Homo sapiens: one gene and its partners. The protein of the gene in region 3 interacts with the protein of the main gene of each other region in a biochemical or structural test. Each region holds a gene or a part of one and is shown on either strand. Other genes may lie near its edges.

What was found.
Region 1: of the proteins of UBE4A (region 3) and GZMB, one has a biochemical effect on the other in vitro, tested with the Homo sapiens proteins (one study listed by BioGRID).
Region 2: the proteins of UBE4A (region 3) and SLA form a complex in vitro, tested with the Homo sapiens proteins (one study listed by BioGRID).

The regions. Positions count from the first base shown.
Region 1 is NC_000014.9:24,632,691-24,636,443, forward strand, and holds the start of GZMB (granzyme B isoform 1 preproprotein), read right to left. Parts: upstream 1,501-3,753; 5' UTR 1,471-1,500; coding exon 1,416-1,470; intron 659-1,415; exon of another isoform or gene 412-658; intron 386-411; coding exon of another isoform or gene 373-385; coding exon 225-372; intron 1-224. UniProt on the Homo sapiens protein: Abundant protease in the cytosolic granules of cytotoxic T-cells and NK-cells which activates caspase-independent pyroptosis when delivered into the target cell through the immunological synapse. It cleaves after Asp.
Region 2 is NC_000008.11:133,039,868-133,043,620, reverse strand, and holds part of SLA (src-like-adapter), read left to right. Parts: intron 1-3,490; coding exon 3,491-3,623; intron 3,624-3,753. UniProt on the Homo sapiens protein: Adapter protein, which negatively regulates T-cell receptor (TCR) signaling. Inhibits T-cell antigen-receptor induced activation of nuclear factor of activated T-cells. Involved in the negative regulation of positive selection and mitosis of T-cells.
Region 3 is NC_000011.10:118,357,605-118,361,357, reverse strand, and holds the start of UBE4A (ubiquitin conjugation factor E4 A), read right to left. Parts: upstream 1,759-3,753; 5' UTR 1,684-1,758; intron 1-1,683.

The DNA of each region.
Region 1 (3,753 bases), on a different chromosome or scaffold from region 3:
CAGTTCTAAATATGGCAGGCTTGGTCACTCTGCTGTTTCTTACTTCAGCAGCACCTCTGGAACCAACCTTCCCCTCTCTCCACAAACTTAACTGCCCTTTTCTCACCCTCTAAGGAGACCTCCTGGCATGTGTGTTCACAGGAGCCCAGGGAGCTCCTTGGGAAGAAGGCAGGGGTCTCTGTGGAGTGTTTCCAGGAGGGTGTGGGCTGTTTTCTGCTCCTCACCTTCCCCAACAGTGAGCAGCTGTCAGCACGAAGTCGTCTCGTATCAGGAAGCCACCGCACCTCTTCAGAGACTTCTGATCCCAGATCATAAGATAAGCCATGTAGGGGCGGGAGTGGGGCTTGGCCTCATGTCCCCCGATGATCTCCCCTGAAGGAAAAGTCTGTCTGCTTGTGGGCACCCATGGAATCTGCTGGGTGGGCACCTGCTTAGTGGCTCCAGAACTCCTGGGCATTTGGGAGCCTGGGATAGCCTGGAGTTGGGAGTGGCCTGGAGGAAGGGGCTTCAATTTCCTGCTCTGAAAAAGGGAAGAACAGCAGACTTTGGTCTGTAAATCTTTCTTCCATATGTAGTTGAAGGCGAGCATACCTGTCTTAGGGACAGTGAAATCCCAGAGGCTCCTGATCATTCCTCTCCTGACTTTGCTTTGTTTCAGGTGAGTTTCCAAGACCCTTATGAGTCCTGTGGTGTCTAGGATAGTGCTGCTTTCTAATGGCCAGGGTGTAAGTGGAGGGATCTAGATACTGTCATATCCTGTTTCCTAGAGCCTGACATGTAGTGGGTGCCCAGTAAATGTTCATGGCTGCATGATGGACTGGCTCCAGTTAGCCTCTGGATGAGGGCTGGTAGAGCAGTGCTGGTGGAATTCTAGAAAGCAGGGAAGCTGGGGCCTGCCGTAGTGCCTCATCCTTGGAAAGAGGGGAGCCACCAAAGGCCAGGGAAGAAAAGCAGAGTTGGAGAATGGGACTGAGCAAACACATTAACAGTGTTCTGAGGACAGTGATTGTACCAATTCTGCTGTCAGCTGAGCTCTGGGTTTCTCTCCTAAGTAGACAGTGAGAGAAGCACCTGTCTTATCCCAGAAACAGAAGCCAGGCCTACTCTAGAATAATTTAATATTTCTCTTTTCTAGTTTCCCATCCTCTGCCATTTACTTCTAGGAAAGTCCTACTCTCCAGGTGACAAAGGTGGGCTCTGGGGAAGGGATAGTACCCACTGGCTCTTCTTGAGAATGGCCTGCTGCTCTGCCATTCCTGCTGATAGCTTATCCAGCATCACACTTGGGGGGTCTTGGTAGAATGGGAGCTGGAGTTCAGAACATTCCTGGTAGATAGATGGATCAGGAATGTGGAGAAAGGGCAGGAGACCTGTGGGATGGGGTTGGGCCCCCGAGGGTGGAGACGGTCACTCACCTGCATCTGCCCTGGGCAGCAGGAGGAAGGCCAGCAGAAGCAGGATTGGTTGCATCTTCTCAGGAAGGCTGCCCTGGTTGGAGCTGCTGTTGTTTCCTCCTTGCTCTCTTTTAGCTCTTGGGAGAGGAAAGAGGTGGAGCAGGCTCAGTGACTTCATGTTCCCCTCTGGTTTTGTGGTGTCTCATCACAGATTTTCTGTAAATGCTGCCCACCCCCACTGCCTCTGCCTGATGACGTCCTCTGGGTGCTTGTGTGAGAATCATGCAGTGACCACATCATCACCCACAGCTGATGACTCAGAGTGGACCACCTATTCAGCCCAGAGCAGGAACCCAAGCCTATGAAGTGAATTGTAGGATGTGGTATCAGCCAGTAGAGGTACTGGAGCACCAGAAACCTGAGTTCCCAGTGATAGAACCGCCAATGCCTCATGGCCATGCTGCTAAATCCATCAGGATAGTTTCTTTAGCAGGTATGTGTTTGAGCCCTTCTGTTGTGCTAGAACCAAGCATGTTGGAGATGTGTCTCCTTCACTTAGAGAGCTGACCATCTGGTTGAAGAGACGGAAATGCCAGGAGCCAGAGTACAGTTTGGGGAGGGCTATGGTAGCACAATACACAAGGCAGTAACAAAGCATGGCCACCATCTACTAGACCCATCTAGCAACCCATTTATTATCATAGCTTCCTTTCTAGAGAATTTCTAACATCCCTTATTTAGTTACAAATGTTTAGTGTGAGAGTCCACCTCTTTTCTGAATGCTTTCAATAAAAGTCCTGTACTTGACATTTTATTGGGCTAGATTAATGAATTGCTAGGAGTCAAATCCACTTTGGGTAGGCTGGGGTCAGTCTACTCAAGCCACTAGAACCAAGAATGAGAAAGGGCTGGTTCTCTAAAGGACGTTTGTGGTGCTAAATTGCTGATACCATATGAAGTGAGGAAGCATGCCAGGCAGCCAAAGATCAGTAGTTGTGTTGTTTAGTATTCTGTCTCCTGTCCAGAGAGCCACACTTCTTACATAGCAGGCTCAGCACATAACAGGCTCACAGTAAACATTTGCTAAACAAACTACACTAATGCTATCATTATAATGGATGTGAAAGATTGTTGTTTCTGAACAGCCCGTGCCCAATTCTGTTAAAAGACAACTAAGTCTCTCTACATGGTTCGATTCTTGTGATTTGTTTCCACCTTTATATTTTCTGTGAGGAAATTTTTCTATGAGGAATGGTATATCTCAAAATATAGAATTCCAGTGTAAACGTCTTCCTTGTCAATAGCAAGCCAACTACATTTATCAAACTTCTATTTTTTGAACCTAGCTTGCCCCATAGTAGACGTTTTAAAAATAATTTTTTCTGATTATAGTCATAATATATGTTTGTTAAGAAAATTTGGAAAGTAGGAAGGGAAAATATCACTTTTTAACCTGTCTCCCACAGACTGACTGTTACCATAAGCAGTGTGTTTTAAATACTTGGGATCACATTGTACATACAATGCAATTTATTTTATCCTTGATTAACCCTACAAATTAAGCATTTTCCCCATGCTCGTAGAAATCTTAGTCAATACAACTATAGTCTTTCTTTCCTAGGCATTAAAAAATTTAATATGCAAGTAATTTTTAAATAATTTTAGCAAAGCGAAAATAATAAACATTACCTAATTTCTCATCATTCACTGATAACCATCTTTAATGTCTTGAAATATGCTCTAGCACATTTTTTCTCATGTAATATCTGCATTTTTTAAAATTAAAAGGGGATTATGCTAAACATAAGTTTATGACCCATTTAAAAAATTGAGGTAAAATTCACATAACATACAATTAACCATTTTAAAGTATTCAATTCAGTGACATTTAGCACATTCAAAATCTGCAACCACCACCTCTGGATATTTCATATAAACGGAATCACACAATACATGACCTGTTGTGGCTGGCTACATTCACTTGTAATAATGTTTCTGAGATTCATACAAGCTGTAGCACATGCCAGTATTCGTTCTTTTTAATGGAAAAATAATATTCCCATTGTATGTTTATACCACAAGTTATTTGTTCATCTGTCAATGGACATTTGGGTTGTTTTCATCTTTTGGCTATTGTAGCTAATGCAGCAATAATAAGCATTTGTGTACAAATTTCTGCATGAACAATATGTTTTCAGTTCTTTTGGATATATACCAAATATATATACTTTTGGAATTTCTGAGTTATACAATAATCCTATTTTTAATTTTTTAAGGAACCACCAAACTGTTTTCCACAGTGGTTGTACCCTTTTGCATTGCTTATCAGCAACATAGGAAAGTTCCTATTTCTCTGCAT
Region 2 (3,753 bases), on a different chromosome or scaffold from region 3:
CTACCCCTCAGAACTTGGGGTCCCCATTTATGGGAGGTGGGTGAATATGGGCTCCTAGCAGGTGATTATTAAACACAATCGTTCATGTAGTGCGTTCAGCATAGCCTGTCACATAGCAGATGCAAAATAAATGATAACACATATTACTTGTGATATCCGAAAACTTAGCAGCCAGGTAAAAACGAAAGAGGAAGGGAGTCCTGGAAACAGCCAACTTATATTGGTTATGAGAAAAGGTTGGTTGTGGTATTTGGCTTTTAATAACAACCATCGGAGGGGGTGTGGAGACCATAAGTTTTGCATAGACAAAAGCAAACATGAGAAGGATGCTGTCCTAGCAAAGCTTCTAGGGACCATGAGGCCATGAGGCTACCAGGCCAAAAATACCGAAATCTAACTGCCGCTGCTTGACCATGGGGAATATCTCACCCCAGTGCAGCACTGGCGCCTTCCCGCAGTATGTTCCTGGTCATCGAACCACTCAATGGATTACAGTCATCTGTTCACCTCTGTGAATAACTGAAAAGGGTAAAAACCGGAACTGTTTCCTATGCCCCTTGAGAATCTCCAAGTGGGAGCCACATGGCCACTTTTATCTCCACTGGATTCACTCTAAAGACACAGATGGGCCAGGCATGGTGGGTCATGCCTGTAATTCCAGCACTTTGGGAGGCTGAGGTGGGCGGATCGCCTGAGGTCAGGAGTTCGAGGCTAGTCTGACCAACATGGTGAAACCCTGTCTGCACTAAAAATACAAAATTTAGCCAGGTGTGGTGGTGGGCGCCTGTAATCCCAACTATTCGGAAGGCTGAGGCAGGGGAATCACTTGAACCCAGGAGGCAGAGGTTGCAGTGAGCTGAGATAGTGCTGCTGTACTCCAGCTTGTGTGGCAGAGCAAGACTCCATCTCACAAAAAAAAAAAAAAAAAAAAAAAAAAAAAAAGACACAGAATGAGAGGAATTGTGCACCAGGGGTTTGAATTGACATCTAGCAACAGGTTGCTTATAATTTTCATCATGATGCCTTTAGGCAAATTACTTGGCATCTTGGAAGCTCAATTTTTTTACTTACAACATGGGGATTAAAATGCAATAATTTTCACAGGATTGCCACTAGTCCAGTTAAAAAAAAAAGATGCATGTGAAAAATGTGGCACCTAAAGTATACCATGCATGGTGGTTACTGAGAGAACAGAGTGCATGGGGCATACATGAATTCTAAAATATGGCTGGGAAAATCAAGGGCTGGGGACCTTGAGGGTCTAGGAACCCTTCAATATAGAGCTGTTGGACCCTAAAGGTGCAGAGGAGTGTGCATTCTGATGAGCCATGTAGACAGAGGTGAATTAGACCAGGGGGTCTGAACCCAAGAGACAGCTGGAGGATGTCTTTCTTCTTCATTTAAGAGGCAATGAGTTGCTTTTAGAATGAGTCAATAAGATTGATTTTGGTCACATTTCTACGGCCCTGAGTAAGTTACTTCATCTCGGGATGCTCAGTTTTTCCCTCCCCAAAATGGGTATAAAAACACTGACAGCCGGGTGTGGTGGCTCACACCTGTAATCCCAGCACTTTGGGAGGCTGAGGTGGGTGGATCATGAGGTCAGGAGATTGAGACCATCCTGGCCAACATGGTGAAACTCCATCTCTACTAAAAATACAAAAAATTAGCCAGGTGTGGTGGCATGCAACTGTAATCCCAGCTACTCGGGAGTCTGAGGCAAGAGAATCACTTGAACCTGGGAGGCAGAGGTTGCAATGAGCCAAGATCACACCACTGCACTCCAGCCTGGAGACAGAGCAAGACTCCGTCTAAAAAAAAAAAAAAAAAAAAAAACTGACCACAAGCTGATCAAGGCCTCAATGAGATCCAGGGTACGAGGCTAGCTCAGTGCTGGGCTCATGTTATGTGCTTATGAGTGGTGGTTCTTTTGCTCTTTGTCAAAATGTATTTTTCACCCTGAGTATTAACCTGTCTAAGGAAGGACACTCACGGAGTGTCCCCTGCCTGTGCTGCACACTGCAGCTGATCTCTCCAGCCTTTGCATCTGACTTCATCTTCCTCGCCTCATATCCTGGGAGGTCATTTCAATTTCCAACCCATGACAGGTCATTATTTCAGATTCCCACCCGATTAAATCTCCCTCTAAATTCATGGTCTCACCTCCCATTTCTCCAAGGGCACCTGTGTGGGTGGACATTTGAGTTCACAGTTGAAGTCGGACTGAAAACCATGAAACGAGGTCTTCCTGGCTTGCCCGCCCTGTGACAGACTGAGTGTGCTTCTTCTGCTACAAATTCCTTTTGTTCTTTGGCAAGGATGCCCCAGAGAGCACTCCATAAACCCGATGGGAAGTGGGGCCTGTCAGAGGTGTGACGTGCTGTCGAAAACCTGGTGGTGGATTGGCTCTGAGGCCAGGGGTGGCTTAGCCCTGCCGGAGGCCAGTGGCACCTCACCCCCTTGACCACATCATCTCCCCCCAGGGCACAGGAGAAGCACTGGGGTTTTCAGCCTGAGTAAGACTGTGCAGAATTTCCTCAATCTCTAAGATGGCTGAGTACAGCAGAATCAAGTCTTTCTCATGATAACATGGGCTAGGGAGAAGCCTTCCAAGAGACGGAAGCTACATCGTAATGTGCCTGGAAAGATGGGGGATCCTGAGAGTCAGACATTTTATACAGAGATTTTCATGCAAGAGAAAAAAGAAACGGGTTTATTTAACTTTTATTCTTTTTGTGCGTGAGCTTCTAGAGTGAAAGAGAGATTGTCTTCATTCTTTGTCTGCATTCTCTTTGCCCTCTTTATCTTTGTTTTCTCTTCCCTCCCTTCCTGTGTCTTCTACTTTTTGTGCTATTTTCACCTCCTCCTCTTCCTCCTTCTCCCTCTCACTTTTGCTTTTCCTCCTCGCCCTCTTTCATTCCTCCTCTGCTCCCTCCCTCCTTTCCTTCCTTCTTTCATTGTTTCTTTTATCTTTCTTCCTAGAGATCTATTTAGTCCACCTGTTCCATTGTAAATGCACAACTGGGGGGATCAGCGCTGTATGCAGCCCCATTCTCACACCCTGTGAGGTTAATGGATTGGGCATTTGCGGGAAACCCTGGAAGGCTGCGGCTTCTGCAGGCACTCACTTGTTGCTTCATTTCTTTCATTCTGCAGTTGAAGAAAGGAAAGCTCAGAGACGTTCTTGATAATTTACTATCGGGGTAAAGCTAAAATTCAAACCCAAGCTTGGTTGATACTGGATCTTAAACCTCTCTCTCTGCCCATGCCTGGCTAAGTGCAGAGTATACCAGGGCACGCTTACATTTCTCAAACAGCTGGGCGCGTGACTTTCAGCATTGTCACCACCTACCATGCCCCTTTGAAATCTCAGGCCCAGTTCCCCATGGCAGCAGCCAGGGAGCTGCACTGGAGAGTGTCTCAGGCCTGAACCCCACACTGGCTGAGGCGTCCCCAGGGTCCCTGACCGGCTGTCTGCTTCCCTCCTCAGAGGTGGCTGATGGCCTGTGCTGTGTGCTCACCACGCCCTGCCTGACACAAAGCACGGCTGCCCCAGCAGTGAGGGCCTCCAGCTCACCTGTCACCTTGCGTCAGAAGACTGTGGACTGGAGGAGAGTGTCCAGGTGAGTATGGTGTGTGTATGTGTGTGTGTGTGTGTGTGTGTGTGCATGCAAGTGCTCTGTGAACATGTGAGCACAAAACGGTGTGTGTGCCGAGCACATGAAAACCATGGCCAGAGTCAGCCAGCCCTGC
Region 3 (3,753 bases):
AATAATGTCATTCGGGATTTATAATCTCCTATTTTCAGCGCCGGGCGCAGTAGGTCATGCCTGTAATCCCAGCACTTTGGGAGGCCAAGGCAGACAGATCACTTGAAGTCAGGAGTTTGAGACCAGCCTGGCCAATGTGGTGAAACCCCGTCTCCACTAAAAGCGATTACAGGCGCATACCACCACACCTTAGCCAGGCTGTAATCCCACTACTTGGGAGGCTGAGGCAGGAGAATCACTTTTAAACTGGGAGATGGAGGTTGCCGTGAGCTGAGATCGTGCCACTGCACTCCAGAGCAGAGCCTGGGTGACAGAGCCAGACTCTGTCTCAAAAAAAAAAAAAAAAAAATACACACACACACACACACACATATATACATACATATATGTATGTATTTTTTTTCCTATTTTCAACTGCCATACAGAGATACAACACTATCCTGTTGTCAGACACTTTGGGATGGTACAGCTACCAACCTTAGAAGCTTTTGGATTTGATTCTTTTAAAATATATCCTCCTTGAAAACAAGTTTCACTCTGATACACTTGCTGCAAAGATCTATATCTATAATAGCTGTCCTACAAAATTCTGTCACTTCCTCCTAATACAAGCTTTTGTTTATGAATAGTACCACTAATCCTTTAAGACCACTGTCAGCTCTCATGAACACACAAGTGTGTTAACATCAGACTTGGTATTGTTTTTCAACAGAAATATCTGGAACACTTTGTAAAACTGGGATCGTCAAAATCAAGCTCTATCAAATCATACTCCCATAAGGTCTGTGTCCTGGCAAATAATACATATATCAATATAAAATAGAAATTAAAATATCAATTTAAAATAGAAATTAAGAAACAATTTTCGTTGTCGTATGTTTCACCTAACACTATCAGGCCATGCTAATGTGGCAACAAATTCCATCAACACATCTATCTGCAGCCTAGAAGGATCTCAAGTCAAAAAGCAGACAGCAGTCCTTCTTGGATCCCATTTTATCGCAGGTGGGCTTCCACGTGAGACCAAAACAGTAAATGACAGCGAGACTAAACACATGCTTGCTGTCAGGGCATAAAACTGATCCTAAAAGGAAGGCTCATCAAATATAAGGTCATGAGGCATGGTCACTCAATTTTAGAAGTGTCTTCTAAACCCAAGGAAACATGAAGCAGAGTGCCCCAAGAGTTATCTGTGGTGAACTCATCACCTGCCTTAAGAATTATCAACACCCTGACGTATGCATTGAACTGGTTTGCTTACGACTCACGATTAATCTTATCTTCTTGGCATCTGCCTATTTGTTATCTACTCTTTATATTTTATCCTTCCATGCTCCATAAGGGATTCGCGGGAAGGAGGGAGATCCACCCGCCCGGGGCACGTTCTAGAGAAAGTTAAGTCAAAAGATAATGCAATGATAGCGCTCCGGCCTCTTCCAGGAGGGGCTTGGCAAAGATGGGGACAGAAATGTACAAAGAGACATCAGAAGCTGGGGCACTGTAAGGGGTTCCAAATCAGACAGGGTCGAAGTTCAAGAAGGAGAAGGTCCCTGGTTAGCAAAGCATAGGAGAAGGAATTTGGAGAAGATAAGAGTGAACAGGCTTGAAGTGGCATTGGACCAGCAGAAAATATCACAACGCAAAGTCAACGACCCCGTCCCCTGAAGCTATTGCCTGTCTTACCAGAGCCTGAAGTGCCAGCAGCGACGACACGACAGAATCTCAGCGGCCGAAGGGTTCCCACTTCCGACTCAGCACAGCAACCGGAAGTTACGTCATCAACAAGCGCCGGGGCATGTGGAAGTTCATCTCCGCGCCGGAAGCACGGTGTGCAGGCTCACCGGGGGGAACGGCGCGCAAATAGTCCTACAGCGCATGCGCTAGCTTGTTAGGGGCGGGCTGGAGGCGGGCAGGAAGTGGCAAGAAGTGGCCTTGGCATCGGATTGTGGGGGCTGGAGTTGGCCCACCTGGCAGTGCGCTTTGGAGTATAGAATATGAGGCTGGGTTTTGGAAATCAGCGTACCGAGGGCAGATAAAACTCTGTGATCCCTGGCTCTGCTCGCAACCTCTGTTGGGGGTCTGCTCTCTTATTTTCCCACCAGTCCTAGACCTTTTTGAAGCAGCTTCTGTTACTCTCTATTATTCAAAGGGATAACACTAACAGCAATAACAACTACAAGTTTGTTATTGTTGTGCTGTCTTTGGAGCAATCTTTGGAGTGTGCTATCTTTGATTGGATTTCAGTTTTCTTATCTGTAAAGTGGAGACAGTATACATCCTACAAGGTTGTTTTGAGATACACATAGATGGCCAGGCACAGTGGCTCACGCCTTGTAGTCCCAGCACTTTGGGAGGCTGAGACGGGCGGGTCACGAGGGCAAGAGATCGGGATACACATAAATAATAGAAGCAGCATAATTTTCAAGAGTTAAAAGCGCTGTGCAAGTGAAAATTCACAGATTGAGAGAAAATAGTTGCAACTCATATATCTGATAAAGGATTCATCTCTAGAATATGTAAAGAACTACAAGAACGAAAAACCCCCAAACAGTTCAGTTCAAAAAAGGGCAAAGGACTTGAATAGACATTTCTCCAAAGAAGATACATTCCAAGAGAATGACTATCCACTTGGTATCTGTGGGGGATTTGTTTCAGGACCCCCTTGGGTACCAAAATCCAAGGATGCTCAAGTTCCTTACATAAAATGATGCAGTATTTGCATATAACCTATGCACATCCTCCTGTGTCATCCTAGAGATGACTAAGTCATCTCTAGATCACTTATAATACCTAATACAACATAAATCTAAATAGTGTTGTATTGTTTAGGGAATAATGACAAAAAGTCTGTACATGTTCAATACAGATGAAATTTGTTTTGGAATATTTCCAATTCATGGTTGGTTGAAGCCACAGATGCAGAGCCCACAGATATGGAAGGCCAACTGTACAAATGGTGGATAAGCATATGAAAGAGTGCTCAACACCACTAGTCTTTAGGGAAATGAAAAAAAAAATCATGAGATACCACTTAATACCTACTAGGATGGCTACTATAAAAAAAAAGGAAAGTAATTGTTGGCAGATGTGGAGAAATTGAAACCGTATGCGTTGCTGATGGCAATGTTAAATAGTCCAGACTTTTTGGAAAAACAGTTTGATGATTCCTCAAAAAGTTAAACATAGTATAACCACATGATCAAGCAATTCCGCTTTGATATAGATGTTCAAAATAACTGAAAGCAGGAACTCAGATACTTGTATACATATATTTACAGTAGCACTATTCATAATAACCAAAAGGTAGAAATAACCCAGAATGTTCATTAACAGATGAATGCATAAACAAAATATGGTATATAGCTACAGATGACTTATTCAGCCTTGAAAAAGAATGAAGTTCTGATACACGCTGAAACATTGATGAACCTTGAAAACGTTATGCTAACTGAAACGAGCCAGACAGAAAGGACTAAATAGTGTATGATTCAGTTTATATGTGGTACACAGAATAGGCACATTCCTTGAGAGAGAAAGTATAATAGAGGTCACCAGGGATTGGAGGGAGAGGCGAATGGGAGTTATTGTCTAATGGGTACCAAGTTTCTGTTTAGGAGGATGAAAAATTTCTGAAATGGGTAGTGATGATGGCTACACATTGTGGATATATTTAATGCCATTGAATGGTACACTTAAAAATAGTTAAAATGGGGTTGGGTGCAGTGGCTCATGCCTGTAATTCCAGCACTATGG